2 separate regions of the Homo sapiens genome follow, and region 1 is linked to region 2. Evidence: fine-mapped expression QTL. Tissue or cell type: lymphoblastoid cells. Region 2 holds a variant in brackets; the other region holds the start of a gene. All regions are shown on one strand. Distances are between the middles of the regions.

What was found. PIP is the estimated chance that this variant, and not a neighbour inherited with it, causes the effect.
Region 1: it holds the start of FSTL4, and the variant in region 2 is fine-mapped to the expression of FSTL4 in lymphoblastoid cells (GEUVADIS, PIP 0.95).

The regions. Positions count from the first base shown.
Region 1 is chr5:133,608,694-133,616,789 of GRCh38, reverse strand. It overlaps FSTL4 (follistatin like 4), which reads left to right and starts at 4,249. Exons shown (of 16, transcript NM_015082.2): 1 at 4,249-4,465. RefSeq lists a silencer at 5,518-5,567.
Region 2 is chr5:133,821,557-133,829,659 of GRCh38, reverse strand. It overlaps a transcript of FSTL4 not described here. Among named protein-coding and RNA genes, the nearest start is that of WSPAR, 88 kb to the left of the region's middle. RefSeq lists an enhancer at 4,791-4,840. The variant G/A (reference allele first, on the strand shown) is at 4,729.

The DNA of each region.
Region 1 (8,096 bases), 210 kb after region 2:
ATAGTTGTCTTCATAGCCCTTGAGGTGACCCATCATAATACTGCATATTCATTTGAAAGGAACGTTTATTTAGAAGAATGGAAGCTTCAGCCAGCCAGGTAGCTCATGCCTGTAATCCCAGCTCTTTGGGAGGCCGAGGTGGGGCAAATTACTTGAGCCCAGGAGTTCAAGACCAGCCTGGGCAACATAGGGAGACCCCGTCTCTACAAAAAGTACAAAAATTACCTGGGTATGGTAGTGCATGCCTGTAGTCCCAGCTATTGGGAGGCTAAGGTGGGAGGATCACCTGAGCCCAGGGAGGTTGAGGCTACAGTGAGCTGTGATCCCACCACTGGACTCCAGCCTGGGTGACAGAGTAAGACCCTGTCTCAAAAAGAAAAGAAGAGGAAAAGAAAGAATGGAAGCTCCCTAAGGTAGCAGTTCACCTTTAAAATTAGATAGATAGATAGATAGATAGATAGATAGATAGATAGATAGATTTAGATTTTCACATTATTTATGATTCTATACTGGTGAGTTGGAAAACAGGGTCATGATAAAAATTATGTTGTCCCTTTCAAAGAAAGGAAATTGGCCCCTCTTTTCACTCTCCTCTTAATATGTTCCCTCTTTCATCCCTTTTGCCTATACTCAGTAGGGTATGATAGTTTGTGGCTGTAGGCCTGGCCATCTCATCCCCAATTATCCCTTGTAAACAATACATTCTTAAGAGTAGCAGACTTCAGTTTCCTCCTGTTATCAGCACCTTTCTTGGTCCCCTTGTGCCATCAATCCAGCCCCTGTGAGTTTGCTGGGAATTTGCCTTGGTAACAATGCCATGGTGAGGGTTTTATGTTCATCTCCCTCCATTTTTACCATTCACAATTCCCTTTCCATCACTGCATCTTCTCATTTATCCCAACTTCTTCATTAAAATTCCTACTCTATACCACTTCTTCTTTGTCTCGAAAAATTTCCCCAATCACAGTTGTCCCTTGAATGAATACCTTATCTCCATGCTAGCTACTTTTCTCCCTGAAATAAAGTTAAAAACAATTATGTATGTGTAATCTTAAGTCTAGGATCTTGAACTTACTGCCTACATTCCCTTAATTTCTAGGTGATTAATGAATTATCATCTTAAAAATAAGCATTAATATTAGACTTAGAGGAAAACTTCAACATCATAGCTCTGTTTAGATCAGAATAACTGAACTTCTATAAATACAGGCAAAATAAAGGCATAGACCTTTAGAACTGAAAATGGCCTTAGACATGTCGTTTAGTATGACTGCCTCCCATGTACCCATTCCCAATTCCCACTTAAGAGAAAACAAGTTCTGGGAAAGGTGTGACTCTCCCAGGCTCACTGAGCCCTAGAGGCTGAGGCGGGAGAGAGACCCCATCCTTGTGCCTCCCATCCAGGGCTCTCCTAAGCACAGGGCTGGCTCTTCAGTAAACTGCATGGTTTGGTTTGAAGATTTACAAAAACATTTTTTGAACAGGCAGCAGAACGTTAAATTATGCAAGACAAGGAAGACTCTTTCCTGCCTTTTCCCACCTTCTCACATGACTTCCCAGTCTGGCTTCTAATGGGTATTTCTAGGCACTGTTTGACCAGCCTAGTGGGGACTCCCAAGGGTAAGCTGACCCACAGTTAGTGATGCAGATACTTTTGGTTGGATCTGGAGAAAGTGCCTTGCTTCCTCCTGATTCCCATGGCTATGTGTCATCTCTGAGTATCCTGATATGCAGGTGTAATCTGAAATGTCCTAAGAGACACACATCATTTGGCAGTAGTTTTTCATTATATTGTTGTGTTTTTGGTAAGGATTAGAAATAGAAAAAAGATTTTAAACCAGCAACGTAAAAAAATATTTGGGTTGCTTAAACTTTTTGATCTTGTAAAAGTATATTAATAATGTTTTTATGTGTGTCTCTGGCTGAACCACTCACCAAAAACAGAGTGGGGCTGGGGGGCAGTAACTGGAATTTATGTTTCCTTTTAGCTCCCCTATTCCAAGCTTATTGAATTACATGAAGTTCAAAACTTAACCATTATTTCCCCTAAGAATCCTAGTTGGCTATTGAGAATCAGTATGCTTGCAAGTTCTGAAACAGGGTTTCAGGCAAATTTTGAAATTCTCAGTGTGAAATCTAGCCTATTTTCCAATTTGGGGTGTACTATTAAACAAAAAATTACACTGAGAGGTAAAAGCACAGAGCAATTCAAAGAGGTGTCAAGGTTACTGGCATCTGATGCTGCTTCCCTGGAGCCTTGTTTTATTTTGTCATTCACACTTCACCTTTCTCATTCCGAGGTGACTTTTAATTTCACTCTTATTTTATGCACAGTAGTTAAACAGCTCACTTCAGATGTTAGCATTCTCTCTAAGGAATATTCCATACATCTGGTTTGCAGCAACTACCTTCTTCTCCTTCTTTGGGAAGCGTGTAGAAGTTCAGTGCCTGTTCACTGCATTAAACAGAGCTATTTCTGATCTTGGTCAACCTATAGACCCTGATTTACATATGACCTTGAGTTACTAAAAAACAAAAAATACACAAAGTCCTGCTTTGATTATGTAATAAGGCCACTAGGTTGACTCAGGGACTTTGTGATCAGAGCTGAGAATAGAAATCTGCTTTTCCAAATACCTCATGTCTTAGAGGAGAGCCGAATCCAGCCTCTAAGCCATGGTGTACGTTCCTGACCACAGACTTAGAATTACATTTCAGAGGGAGGCACAGCACATTTCCAAACTTCCCTGCTTCCTTTTATACTCATTTTCTCTTTTCTGTTTCCCAAGATGAAAAGTGCCATCCCTTCCCCAGTCCTGCCATGGAGAATCTGGCCCCTAGCCAGCCCCAGAAGTTCAGTCATGGTGGCCTTGGCAAAGATTCATAGTCAAATCTGAGAGAGGATCACACTGGCTAGGGCCCAGGGTCACTGAGGATGTAGTAGCCTTTATCCTTCTGAGTAAAAATCATGGTATCCACATGGGAAGTCAACCAGGTTTTGTCCAACCCCTCATTTTACAAGTGGGGAAACTGATACCTACAGTAGAGATACGATTGGCTCTGCATTACATAGCTTGGCAGTGATAGAGGGAGAGCTGGACCCCAGACCAAAACTGTGTGATGCCAAGACCGCGCTGGCCCATTCACTGCTGTATCTCTAGCAACTATTAATAGCACAGTGCCTGCTGCATTGGAGGGGTTCAGCGGCAGGAAAATCTGTGGAAGGAAAAAACAAACGTAATATCTCTTTCTTCAGGTCAGCCTTCCATTATTCTTCCCCTTTTCCTTATATTTAACTAACTTCATCCTCAGAAAAATCCCCTCTGTCACCTCCCCCCGGCCAGGAGAGATTACAGAGGCATGGACAGAACACTGTTCACCTAAGCCAGGAAGGCCCCTGGTGCCCACGCAGCCAGAGCAGGAGGCAGGCCCTCAGAAAGTCTCCTGGCCATCAGCCTGGCCTGGGTAGGGGCTCCCTCCTAAGTTTCCTGCCAGACTGAGGCTACGTATGACCATTTATGGGCCCCTAGTTGTTACAAAGGTGTTTCCAGTTCATTCGGGAAGGAAGACTGATCTCAAAAGCTGCTGATGTTAAAGAGGGATTCAGAAAAGTTTGGGAGCCCCAGGCTTGGGGATGGGATCAGGATGGGGAAATATCCTGTTCTAAGGGAGAAGGGACCCTCTGGGCCCAGCTAGGTCAGGTAGGCAAATGTCACTTGGGATTGCCCCTGTATGCCCTGAATGTCTTAAGATTCTGTAGTTGGAAGAGGGAAGATTCAGAAAAGAGAAAACCTTTGCTGTTTCCCAGGTTGTTGGGTCTCAACGGCGGGGGATTTCACCCACTTTGTCCCCAGGGACAGCTCTCCTGCTGTGGTGTACCGGCCCGCCTGGACTCCACGAGCAATGGCCGCGGATTCAGAGACCCCCTGTGCGCCTGGAGAGCACAGCTTTGGGGAACCTGGCCCGGAAAGGAGCCTGGAGGAGAGCAGAGGTGAAGAGGGGCTGTCACTTGCCGAGCTCCACGCTAGCCAGAGGCAGGAGCGCTACGCTGGCCCTCCTCCCTCCGGGCCCTAGATGGCCCCAGCGCTCCGGAGTCATCGCGCCCCGCGTGCGCGCCCGCCTGCTCCGCGCACCTGCCGTGGCCGCCGCGCGGGTCTGACCGGCTGGCGGGCGGGCGGCGCGCACAGGTGGCGGCGATTGGGCAGGCGGGGCCCAGAGGGTGACGTCACGGGCTCCGGTCCCGGCGGCAGAAATAGGGCAGCCGCGGCGGCGGTGGCACAGCAGCGGGCAGCGGCGGCTCAGGGAGCTGGAGCCTCAACAGCCTCCAGCGAGCCCGGGACCCGCCGACAGCCCGAGAAACCAGCCGAAGGACGCGGGGCGGGGTCGCCGCCGCCGCCACGGGGTGCTCCCTCCCTCCCGCCCAAGTCCGGCCACCTGGTCTTCCCCTCGGCCCCGGCCGTCTCAGGTACGCGGGCGCAGCTCCCAGCGGGCGCGGGGAGGGTGCCATGTCGCTGGCGCCGCCACCAGCCGGTCCCGCTGCACCCCACTGGGGTCCTGGCGCCCGCGGCCCCGCATCTTGCTGCAGGGCCCGGCGCGGGCGCTTGCTTGTCCTTACTGCCCGCGCCGGGAAAGCCAAGTTTGCCCGCGGGGAAGGGACCGCTGGGCCAGGGCTCGGCAGGGCTACCCCGGCCAAGGCCAGGACTCGAGGAGAGGCTGGGACGCCGAGGCTCGTGGCCGGGGTCTACGGTGGGGACCGGAGTGACCCGGTTGGCACGCGGGGCGCCACGCAGAAGCGCTCGGGCCGAGCCCGCAGCTCGCGCCCGGCTCCGAAATCCTGCAGGCGCCGTTCTTGGGTTCAGGACCCCGAGCGGCCCCGGCGGAGCCAGGCGAGCGCGGCCCCTCGGCCCGGGCCCGGTGCCCTTGGCTCCGGGTTGGGGCGCCGGGCAGGCATTCTCAGCACCTCCTCCCCGCGGCTTTGCGGGGAAACTTGCGTCTCCTCGCTGCAGCCCAAAGGGCCCGCTGCGCTTCGCCTGGCCCTGGCTTCCCCGGGGTCCGCCGCATGTGAGGCTGGGGAGGAAGGAATCAGGGCACGACCCGACTCCAGGCAGCCTGCGGCGCTGCTTGTGCGTAGCCGGCCGCGGTCCAGAGTGAGCGGCCCGGGGTACCCGCTTGAACGTGTCTAGGGAGCAGTGTGTTGGGGGCGTTCAGCGTTCGGGCTGGGGGCTTGGTCCTAAGAGAGCTTGCACTGTGGATGATCTCCGCCCTCTTTGCGCCCGCAAAACAAAGACGAGTTCTGAGTTTCAGGAGGGACCTGGACGAGGCAGGCACAGCACTCTGCTTTCGGCGCCTGTCGCCTCGAGTTTGGGGACGAGCTGACGCTAGTCTTTGGGGCTCCCTGCAGCCGACAAAGCGGCGCCAACCCCAGGCCTGCCACCTGAGGACTTTGTGCCCGCAACTCTTGCGGGAGCGGAAAGCCGCCGAGGCAGTGGGGTTTCTTGTTTTCCAGAGCGCGGCGAGCCTCCGCGCGGCGCGGCAAGTGCACTAGGAGTGCGCGGGTCAGCGGGGCGGGCCCGGCGAGGTCGGTGTCGCGGCTCGAGAGCGGGTGCCGGGGCGCTGTCCAGCAGCCCTCGCTCGCGGCCGCGGGCCGCCGACACTGATGAATGGCGCGGCCACAGCCCGCCGCTCCCCTCTAGGTGTCGCTTCCGCCGAGCTTTCCTCCAGTGAAAAACAGCGCCGGCAGCTTGGTCTGTTACCTTCGTAAATTTGTTGCAAGCCTGTGCACCAGGAATTGTACTAGATGGGGCCCCCGAGATACAAACATCCGTCCAGGTTCTCTGGGCCAAACGTAAACAGAATTTCAATAGGTGGTGAAGTAACTGCCAGCCAAAATGTTCACCGGGAATGGGCCTGTGTCACAATCTGTGAGGGGAAAAGACGGATCAGTGAGCGACTAGGACTCTTCTTGAAAGTCCTAAGTTATTTTCCTACTGCCAAATTTAGGGGAAACCAGCGATGCTTTTTAATAGTGTCTTCTTAATCCTGGGAGCCAGGCGCCAGTTTCTGTGCCTGCCCCTCTGGCCCCCAGGACAGACTCTGGGTCTGGTTGGCGGGGGGTCCACCTGGGAAGGGAATGGTCGGAGGTGTGAGTGATGCAGCTTCTGAGACTCCAGAGCCACAGCAACTCTCAGGCAGGAGCTCAAGCCGGACATACGAGCAGATGCCCTACAGGGCACGTGTCTGCTTCCCATCTTAGCGTTGTGAGAAGGAGGCACTGCAGCATCACTAGACCATTTCTGCCATACTCTGCTAAATGTTCGCTTTTTCCCTCCCATCCTAGGAAAAAAAGGCACCACCCTCTCCAAAGACTTCAGACTGAGCCAAAGTTCACATAAGAAAATAGTCCACTTTGATGTAATGTATTTAAATTGCTCGTTAGAGTTGTCCTAGTGCTTTTTTCTCTCTTAGACTTTTATGATCATCCTCAATTTTTGTTGATTCTAGGAAAGCTCTTTTTCTTCTGGAAAAGGCCAGCTTGTTTTTCTGGGTATTAGGAGAACTTTTATCCTTTCGGCTGTGCCCTGGAGGTGGGTGAGGGAAGAGGAGGTTGGATTTTTCCACCATGACCAGTCAGTCACTGAGGACTTTTTTTCCTTTTACTAAGGGCCGTAGGACTTTTTAAATGTGACCTTCACGTTATGATCTTTTGTTTGACTTAACACTATATTCAGAGACTAGCATTGAATAGTCATTGTTTCATAAAACTACCTTAACTCCTACCTTGCCTTGTTTGAGTGTTTCTCTGCAAACTCAACCTTCTTGAGTTGCTTATGTGCGGTTAGTTGTGTGCTTCCTAGCTTAATGCAATTAGATATTTCAAGAGCACATCTTTCTTTACATTTTCTGTCTCAATGCATAACATAAGGCATGGAATTTCCAATAAAATAGAACTGCAATCAAGAGCATGTGGTTCTTAAGAGGTATGAGCTGAAGGTTGTAAGGATAAAGGTTATTGGAAGTCACATGTGTGTCTGTGTTAAACGTCAGAGTAAATAGGAATAGAGATTTATACATGGCACATAGAATAATGTAGCCATCTAATTTATCAAGTGTTGGGGAAGAATTAACTAATGATATAGAGTAGATAATTAATAGGAAATGCAATTTAACTTCATTAGGGCTTGCTGCAACGTTAGCTTGCTATATCTCCATGCCTAATTTCCCTGGGTTGGTGTTTTAGGGACTGTCTTAGGAAATCTGTACCACTTTCTTTTTTTCTAAAACACTCACATATCAAAACTAGGGTCGTAAGCCTTTGAGAGGTTCCCGTACAGCCTCCTGGTTTCACGCTGGGGTTGATGTGGCTTTTTTTCCCCCTTTAAATTTGAGCAGACATGCAGAAGAGAATTCCACGTTGTATTCAGTCAGTATTTGGAATTCCAGAATCCCAGTTGATTTTTATATGTTGATTGCCAACATGCCATGTATGAAATGCTACACACCTACAGTGTGTGTAGGGCAGACACTTTTTCATTTGGAAAGGTTGAGAATGCAGATGCTTCAGGGTCACAAATCTGACTGTTCTCTTCAAGGCTGGGTGGCATTGCTTGGTTCTGCCAAATCATCTTTGTAATTTCTGGTCCTGTTGATTACAAAAAGAAGCCATTTCTGTATGGCTAATCCTTAATGGCTAGTCTGGTAAAGTTACCAAGTTCTGGGAGAGAGGCTGAGAGAGAGAATGGATGAACAATGCCACCGAAACTCTGAGGGCCAGAATTCCCATTCTTCCCAACAGGGCTGTTTCCTGGAATAGAAAGAGAAGTTTGTATTAAACCCATTGCCAGTTTAATGGGATTGCTTCTCTCTGGCCTATGAACTTGGTCAATAAAGACAGCTTACATGCCTGTGTGCGTTCTCTGGGTGGGGCAGATTTTGGTATTTTCATATGAATACCTATTTCTCCCTAACAATTTGCATTCCTATTTCATGCTTTTTCAGCTTTCTTCAAAAAGCAAGTCAGTATTTGGAATGTTACATCATACTAACCTGTAATACCTCTGTAATTCTAAATACAGATAAATAATAGCACAGATATTAGC
Region 2 (8,103 bases):
ACCACTCTCAGAGCAGCAGGGGCAGCAAAACCATGAACCCTTTCTCTCCCCCTGACAACACAAGGAAAGCACCTGTCAGCCTGAGTGTTGGCAACTGTGTCTAATTCTTCTCCCTACTCACTTTGGTGGACACAGTAAGTGCTCAATATAGAGCAGGTGCTGAATAAATGAATGGGAGAGCAGGGCACAGGGAAGGAAGAGCTGTTTGGTTTGGGTTTTGGTTCCACAAACAACCATGAAATGTTTGAGCTTTTTCTTTCTTTTCTTTTTTTTTGAGACAGAGTCTCACTCTGTTGCCGAGGCTGGAGTGCAGTGGCGCGATCTCAGCTCACTGCAACCTCTGCCTCCCGGTTCAAGCGATGCAAGTCCTGAGTAGCTGGGACTACAGGCACATGCTACCACACCCGGCTAATTTTATTTTTTTGTATTTTTAGTAGAAACAGGGTTTCGCTGTTTTGGCCAGGCTGGACTTGAACTCCTGACCTCAGGTGATCCTCCCACCTTGGCCTCCCAAAGTGCTGGGATTACAGGCGTGAGGCACCATGCCAAGCTGTTTGAGCCTTTTCTTGGAGGAACATGAGCAATCCCTCTGAGGATTACCTGAAGAAATGGTGCCTTTCGGAGGTCCCAGATGAGAAGCACGTGGCCCCGGGAGGCTCTGCCGTGTGTTTCCATGCTCCCCTCTGCTGGTGAGGCTGCCTGCCCGCTGTTATGTGGCTCCTCTTAGCCCCACTCAGATCCTATTATGCCAACGCAAATTGAGTTACAGCATCAAAAGCTCTTTGTTTAGTGAAGCAAGCACTTCGTATTGGTTACTACATCTGTCTTGTTATTTTGCATCATCTTTGCTAGAAGCCTGCATGCATGTCCTTGAGGAGCAAGCTGTAAAGACTAAGTGATTTATGAAATCTATTTTGTACTTTTGGTTATTCTTAAATGGGATAAATAGTGGTGTTGGGGCTCCAGCGTTTGCAGAGGAGAGAACCAGCAGTCCGGTGTCCCCCTTGGGCCTGGAGGATCACGGTGCCCATAGTGCCTGATGCAGAATTGGCTGAGGGTGTGACTGGGTTTTCTCTAGAATTTAATTAGGCACAGTCTGTTACAAAAAGTTGACAAATAGGGCACTCGTTCCTACAGAACGGATGTAGCGATCTGAGATTAAGAGTGCCAATTCTTTGCATTTGTACAGTTTTTAAAAAATAGCACTTTTTCACATTATAAAAGTAATATGGTGTATATTGTAGAAAATTTGGAAAATAGAGACAAAGCACAGTGAAAAATCCTGTCACTGAGGGTGAAGCATTGTGAACACTTTAGTGCGCAAACTTTAGGATCCACTAGGCACATGTGTGTATGTATACCTATACATATGTACTTAGAATTTTTATAAGAAAGGTGTCAAGAGCGCACTTGCTCTTTCCCTTCCCAGCCCTGGTGTCTTTGGTTCCCCAGGAAGCCACCAGACCCACCAGCTCACACGAAGCCTTCCTTGTTCCTGGCCCTTGTCCTCCCCTAGGGAATCTTCCCCAGCTTAACACACAGCAGAGGAGGGTGACTGAACACTGACCATATGTCCCCAACCCAATGGTCTGTGTCCACCGGGGTGGAGTTTCCATGTTGCCGCCAGGGACAGGAGTTGGGGTGGCCAACCCTCTGGCTTCCCTCGATGGCTTTGTGACCCAGGAGATACCAAGTGTTCAGCATTTCTTGGCAGCTCTCTCCTGCCCAGGGGGCTGGGATAGCTACTGACGCACAGGGTGTGGCTGACCTCTCAAGTTTTGAGGCAAATCTTGATCCTTATAGCCTGCAAGACCCCCAGTTGTGCCCATGCCTCATGCTCTGTCCTTTGTCAACCCTGGGTTGTTGAACATGACCCTCTTCTGCTTGAGGATGGCTCCAGAGAGGTGTGTGACCAGCCTTGTGTGCAATGTACAGAATTTGGGGTGAGATAGTGTGGAAGAAACCCATGGCTTTGTAGGTCTTTTCAGCCTGTGGAGGAAAATCATACAAGAGGAGTCCACAGACTTGGATGTCTTCTCTCTGGTCTTAAGAAAAACTCTTCTTTTGGTCACTGAAAAGTGATGTTTAAAGGATCTCCATGTTGGTGCTGATATATAAGAGAGTATTTGCACAGTGTCCACTCTCCATTTTCCTAGAGAAATCAATCCTCCTCGTCAGAAACTTGTGGTCCCAAGACTATCTGCATCCATATCAGCTGAGCTCAGGGGCAGTGTTGGGAGGCAGGCATCCGCGACACTCCTTAGTCAATATTCTCTGCCCTCCCAGCTCACCCTGACTTTGTTCAGTTGATCGCCCCGCTGCTGTCAGGAAGGCCTGTCCTTGAACATGGTTGAACGATTCATTACCTGTCAGAGGCAGCCAGGTGTGTCTGTGCTGGGGGCTCACTTAGTTGGCTTAGTAATTAAAAGCAAACAAAGCCTGGATGGAGACCTATTGGTGCTGCTGGGGGCGCTGAGGCAGAAACAAGCAGGCAGGCAGCCAGGTCCCAGAGCCGAGGATGATGCGGTATCATAAGAGGTGACAGAGTGCTGCTTCCCTGGAGTGGGGAAAGCAAATGGCTCCTCTGCAGGCCGTCTTTACGGACCCACAAAGTTCCTGCTCCCATCTGGGCCTGGGGCGGGACTGTCACTGGGCGTGCCATTGGGCCTTCTGTGGTGAGAGGGGAGGAGGGCAAGGCCTGTTCTCAGATCCCTGCCCTGCTGGGCCCTGTTATTGGAATCACACTGGGTGCTGGTGACATCCTAAGAAAAGACAGAATTTTAGTTATTAAGTCAGTGGCAGTGGTGGGATTCAAACCCAGTGCTTCCTGACTCTAAAAGCCAGACTCTTGTTTTATTCCCTTAGGTTGGGGTATAGACTAGGTTGAATAGGTGGTCCCCCAAAAGATGTATCTACGTCCCTGAGCCCAGTGTGTGTGACTTTATTTGGAAAAACAGTTTTGCAGGTGAAATTAAATTAAGGATCTTGAGATGGGGTGATACTCCTGGATTACCTAGGTGGGCCCTGCATCCAAGTGTCCTTGTAGGAGAAAGGCCAACGGGGGATTTGAGACACAGAGAAGACACACGAAGAGGAGGCAGTGTGGCCACAGAGGCAGAGGTTGGAGTGATGCGGCCACAAGTCAAGGAATGCTGATGGCCACCAGAAGCTGAAAGAGGCAAAGGCAGCTTCTCCCTTAGGGTCCCTGGAGGGAGTCTGGTGTGGCAGGATTCTGGGCTTCTGGGCTTCAGAACTGTGGGAGAATCATTTCTGTCGTTATAAGCCACCCAGTTTGTGGTCCTTTGTTATGGCAGCCACAGGAAACTAACATGGGTGGCTCAGCACAAGTCAAAGGCTGGGATTTTCAGTCCCTTTGCAATCACTGTGGCATCTTTTTAGATATCAGAGGCAGTCCTGTCAGGCTGAGCATGGAGCCATGTGGCGCCATCTGAATCCATCTCTCCAGGCCTCTGGTGACATCGCAAGCTGCCCTAGTCTCAGTGTCCCTCTCATGTAGCCTGGAGTCCCCAGCCATGGAGCGCAGTGGAAGCTGACCTGATGCTGCATGTACTTTTGTGAATTGATTTTGCTCAGCTCAGAAGTTGCCTGCTTCTCACCTGGAGGCAGTGGCAGGAAGTTGGTGGTGTTTGGGGCCTTTTGCCCTGAAGTGGCACACCCCTTCTGCAGCCTCACCGGCAGGCGACCTCAAGGAAGGTTATAAATAGCAGCCGGGGATGGGTTCTGAGTGCCTTGAGGTGGAAACACAATACTTGATGACAGCTGAGCACAGGGGGAGACAGCTCGATGCTGGGGGCCATTGCTTCTCCGCAGCTCTGACGGTAATCAGAGCAGGCAGATGTCACCGACAGCTGGAGCTAATGGGCTGTCAGACAGGGCCGGACCAACCTGGGACATCCTCCGTGCTCCCTGGCACAAGTCCAGTCCAGACCGAGGGCACTCAAGCATGGGACGCCAGGGGAACGGCTTTGATGCCTACTGGTGAGGGCCATGCCCCTCCCTGCCTGGTGAAGCCTTGTTAGGAGTTGGTGGCTCTCCTGCACCCACCCCCGCGGATAGTTTTATTTTTCATCAGTGGGAAATGGTCATTTGAATTACTGATGAGAGATTAAAACTAAGCTAATTCAGTTCAATTTCTTCAATAGACAAAACTATTGATAATTAACCTAGAAGCAAAGGTCAATGCAGTGGTAAATGGCTGCAGAGGCAGAGGAATTGCAATGAGGAGCTATTAGTTTGTGCTAAGGTGGAAATTATACAAGAACCATCTTGAGAAACACTTTGAAATGAGTTCAAGATTCCAGACCAAAGTTTGGTGCCCACCTGAAAGACCTGCATCTCAGCCTGGGGACTTTTGAGCATAGGATTGGCAGGGCTTGTTTCTTGACTATGAAGTCCTGAAAAAGGAGTGAGCTGTGGTTTCTGGGGGGTGTGTCCTTCAAGGTGGCGTGGGAGTAGGGAGACCTGAGGCCTGGTTTTAACTGGTTTTGACTCCTGAGTCTCTGTGTGAGTGCAGCGAGGCACTGAGTCCCTGAGTGACCTCAGTGTCTCTGTGAAGTGAGGAGGTGGAGCCAGGCCACTGAGCCTCTTCATCTCTGCCACCACGGACTCTTGCCCTGTGGTTGTAATGAATGATTCCAGGGACACCAGGAAAAGGTGGGCAGGAAGCTGTGGTGCCCTCTCTATTTTTACACACAGCCACCCTCTGAA[G/A]GGGATTCACGCTGTGATTTATTAACTTGTCTGTCTGTGGAGTTGGGTGTCTTGGTGGGAGTCCTGGACTCAGGTACCATTTAGCAACCTTGAGAGTTCAAAGGGCTCAGCCATTGGACATGGTATGTGGTGGTTTCCCGGTGCATGCCTGGCTCCACCTCTCCCCTGCTCAAGGATGCCTGCGTGCTTTGGGCAGGAAAAGCCAAACTTGGTTGCTTTGGCAACAGGGGTCTTGGTGAGAAGCTGGTACACAAGCAGGTGCTTCCAGTGTGCCAGAGAAAGGCACAGGGCCTTCTTCGCCCCGAGTCTTCTTACTTCTCTGATGGAGCTGAGTCATGCATCACCTCTTGTTTAATGGTGGTGAAATATACTCAGGTACTCTGATACTGTGAAATATACATTTGGTCTTCATCTCCCTTTCCTGGCAAGAGATCCTGAAGCCCTGGAATCTCTAGAGGGATATGAGTGTCTTTTGTCTGCTTCTGAGATGGCTGGTGGCCCCTAAATAGCCTCAGGATGGGGGCACATGCCTTGTTCTGTGGATCTCTTTCACCTGGATTAAACTGGTAAATGTAAGTAAAGCGTTTCCCTGAGTTCTGTGAGCTGCTATAGCAGATTAATCGAACCCAAGGAGGGGGCTGTGGGAACCCTCATTTATAGTGGGTCCATCAGAAGCATAGGTGGCAACCCACTATTTATGATTGGCATCTGGAGTGGGAGCAGTCCTGTGGGATCTGATGCTCTCTCCAGGTAGACAGTGTCAGAACTGAATTGAAGAAGAGGACACCCAGCTGGTGTCTGCTAGAGAATCACCTACAGAATTGCGTGGTGTGTGAGAAAACCCTCCCATGCATCTGGTGTCAGAAGTATTGTCTTGAGTGCCTGGGTGGTGTGGGGGTAGAGGGAAAAACACTTTGGTCTTTGTCCCGTCTCTTCAAAGGTATTTGTCTCAGAACACTAGAAGTGGCTTTCAAACATCTATCTAGCAGCAACATTCTTTAAAAAATTAAACCTTAGAAGGAAACTCAATATGTAAGACAAAGAAAAGGGGAGCTGTTCTGCAGCGGGGAGTTGCAGCCCTCCCATCTGGCCCTTTCTCCCCAGGGGCAGGCTGGCTTTGGAGGGGGCATGAGGACTTCCCCATGCCCCAGTTCCAGGGTATGCTGACCTTGGTCAGAAAGCCACCCAATCAGCCTCCTCATTTTACAACAGAGGGACTTGAGACAAGAGAGGGGAGTGGACTGGTCCATGTGTCCCAGCAGGCTCCTGGCCAAGCAGGACTCCCCTGGTTTCCAGCTTGGTGGAGGAGTGGGGAAGGAGACAGGGGCACTCTGTCCGGGACACCATACTGCCTCTCTGGGAGCTATTCTCAGACCTGCTGGGTGTTTGAGTCTCTGACATCCTGAGGATCTGGCTTCCAGTGAGATCTCCCCTCTGTGTGACAAGTCCCCTAAGACTGACTTTCAGACTAAGGCCTCATCACTCCCTCTGTCCAAGGGGGCCCAAACCAGCCCCTGGAGAGGAGGAGAGTGCAGGGCTGGGGAGAGATTCTGGGTACAGGGGCATGATTTGGGGCTGTGCTGAAGTCCTTTCCTGTGGAATGTAATTGTTGCTCAGGGGACCAGCAGGGCTGCTGTGGGACACCCTCTTCTGATGTTTTAATTTCAACTTATTTCCTGGGGTGCTGAAGCTACTTTTGAGAGGAGCTGATTGGGACCTATGAATGGCCCAGGAGCACCTGGTGGTGACCAGCTCTGGGCTCTGCTTTCTTTTCCTGTTTTGTTCTTGCCCATCCAGAAGTTCTTGACTTCTTGCCTTGAAGGTTTGTCTCCTGAACGCTATGGCACTTGATCACCTTCTAATGTACCATATGCTTTACCTGTTTACTTTGTCTATTGTTCATGGTCTGTTTCCATGCCCATGCCCCCAACCCCACCTCCTGCCCCCACATGAAAGCTACTCCAGGGCAGAGAGACTGTCTGATTTGTTCACTGCTGTAGTTTAGGTAAGATCTCTATGGATATTGTTAAAAGGACACATGAATAAATGAATCACATTTCCTTCCCACATATCTTCAGACTTCTGGCAGAATTACCTCTGGGAGGTAATTCTCTACTCTTTGTTTTTTGGTTTTGGGCTTCCTTTTGCATGGCGTTAGAGTTCGTGGGTCCGAAAAAGGATGTTTAATATCTGCTGAAGGACTAAAAACTATTTATTAAAGATGGGATTCATATTCTTGTTGAAATGTTGCCTTTCCAGGAGCATCGGTGCGTGTGCCTTTCCATGACGCCCCCGGAATGTTCACATCCTTAGCTTTCTGGCTTCACCAGGGACCCTCCCTGATTTCCCACGGCTCCACCCTCACCTTCCTTAGATTTCTGCAGTTTTAAAGTCTACTCTCCCATCTCAGTAATGAAGAAATAAACAATGGTTCTGTGTGTGACCCCTGATTTTAATTGGATTTCAGAGCAATTTTGAATGAATGAATGAAGTTTCTGGGCTCTGAGAATATGCTCTTCAAATAATGAGCTGAAACGATTACATTAATTTCCTAAGGATCTATTCCTTCCTCTGCTCAGATTATTTGCAGACACTGGTCAATGCTGCATATAAATTGAGGTCTCAAAAGGCTAACTTAACAATTAATCGGAAGCATCTCCAAGCCCCTAAAAATTGAAATAGCTCCACAAATGGAAGAGGAAATCTACCTTCAGAGACCTCTTGTTATTAAAGATGTGCACTTTGGATACATCAAGGGATTCTGGGGTGAACTCTGTTTATCAGGGTCCAGGGGGCGAGGAGTGTTCATACATCAAAGACATAATTCTAAGCATTTTGTCATATCAGCTTTTCTCTTTGTTCTTGCAATGCAGAGTCTTGGAGGCAAGTCATCTTTGTCACTCAAGAAGTGCAGGAGGTTTGATTGAGAAATATGCCTGAGTGTGACCCCCCAGGGTCACTTGTCTTCATTCTTCCCTTCTCACTGTGCCCCCGTTGGGCTCCCATAAGACCCTTGGCATCTGATCCTCCTGCCTTTTGTGTTCCTCCTCCTTGCACCGCTACGTTCCTGGCAACTGAATTTCCGACCAGTCTCCTTTTCTCTGGTATCTCACTCCTTGTCCTTTCTGAGCATGTTGCCTGGGGTCATAATTATCCTGCTCAAGAATCCTTAGTGACTCCCTAATAAACCCATGGGATGAAGTAGGAGCTCCTCCCTGCTGGCTTCTGGGCCCTGTTGGATCCAGTCCTGCGCCTCCTCCACAGTGCCCTCTTCCCTGTCCCCACATGTGCTCAACTCTCCACTTGAGCTGGAGTCTTCATAGCACCTCTCACCCCTGAGCACACACACTGCCAATTCCTGCCTCTGGACTCTTG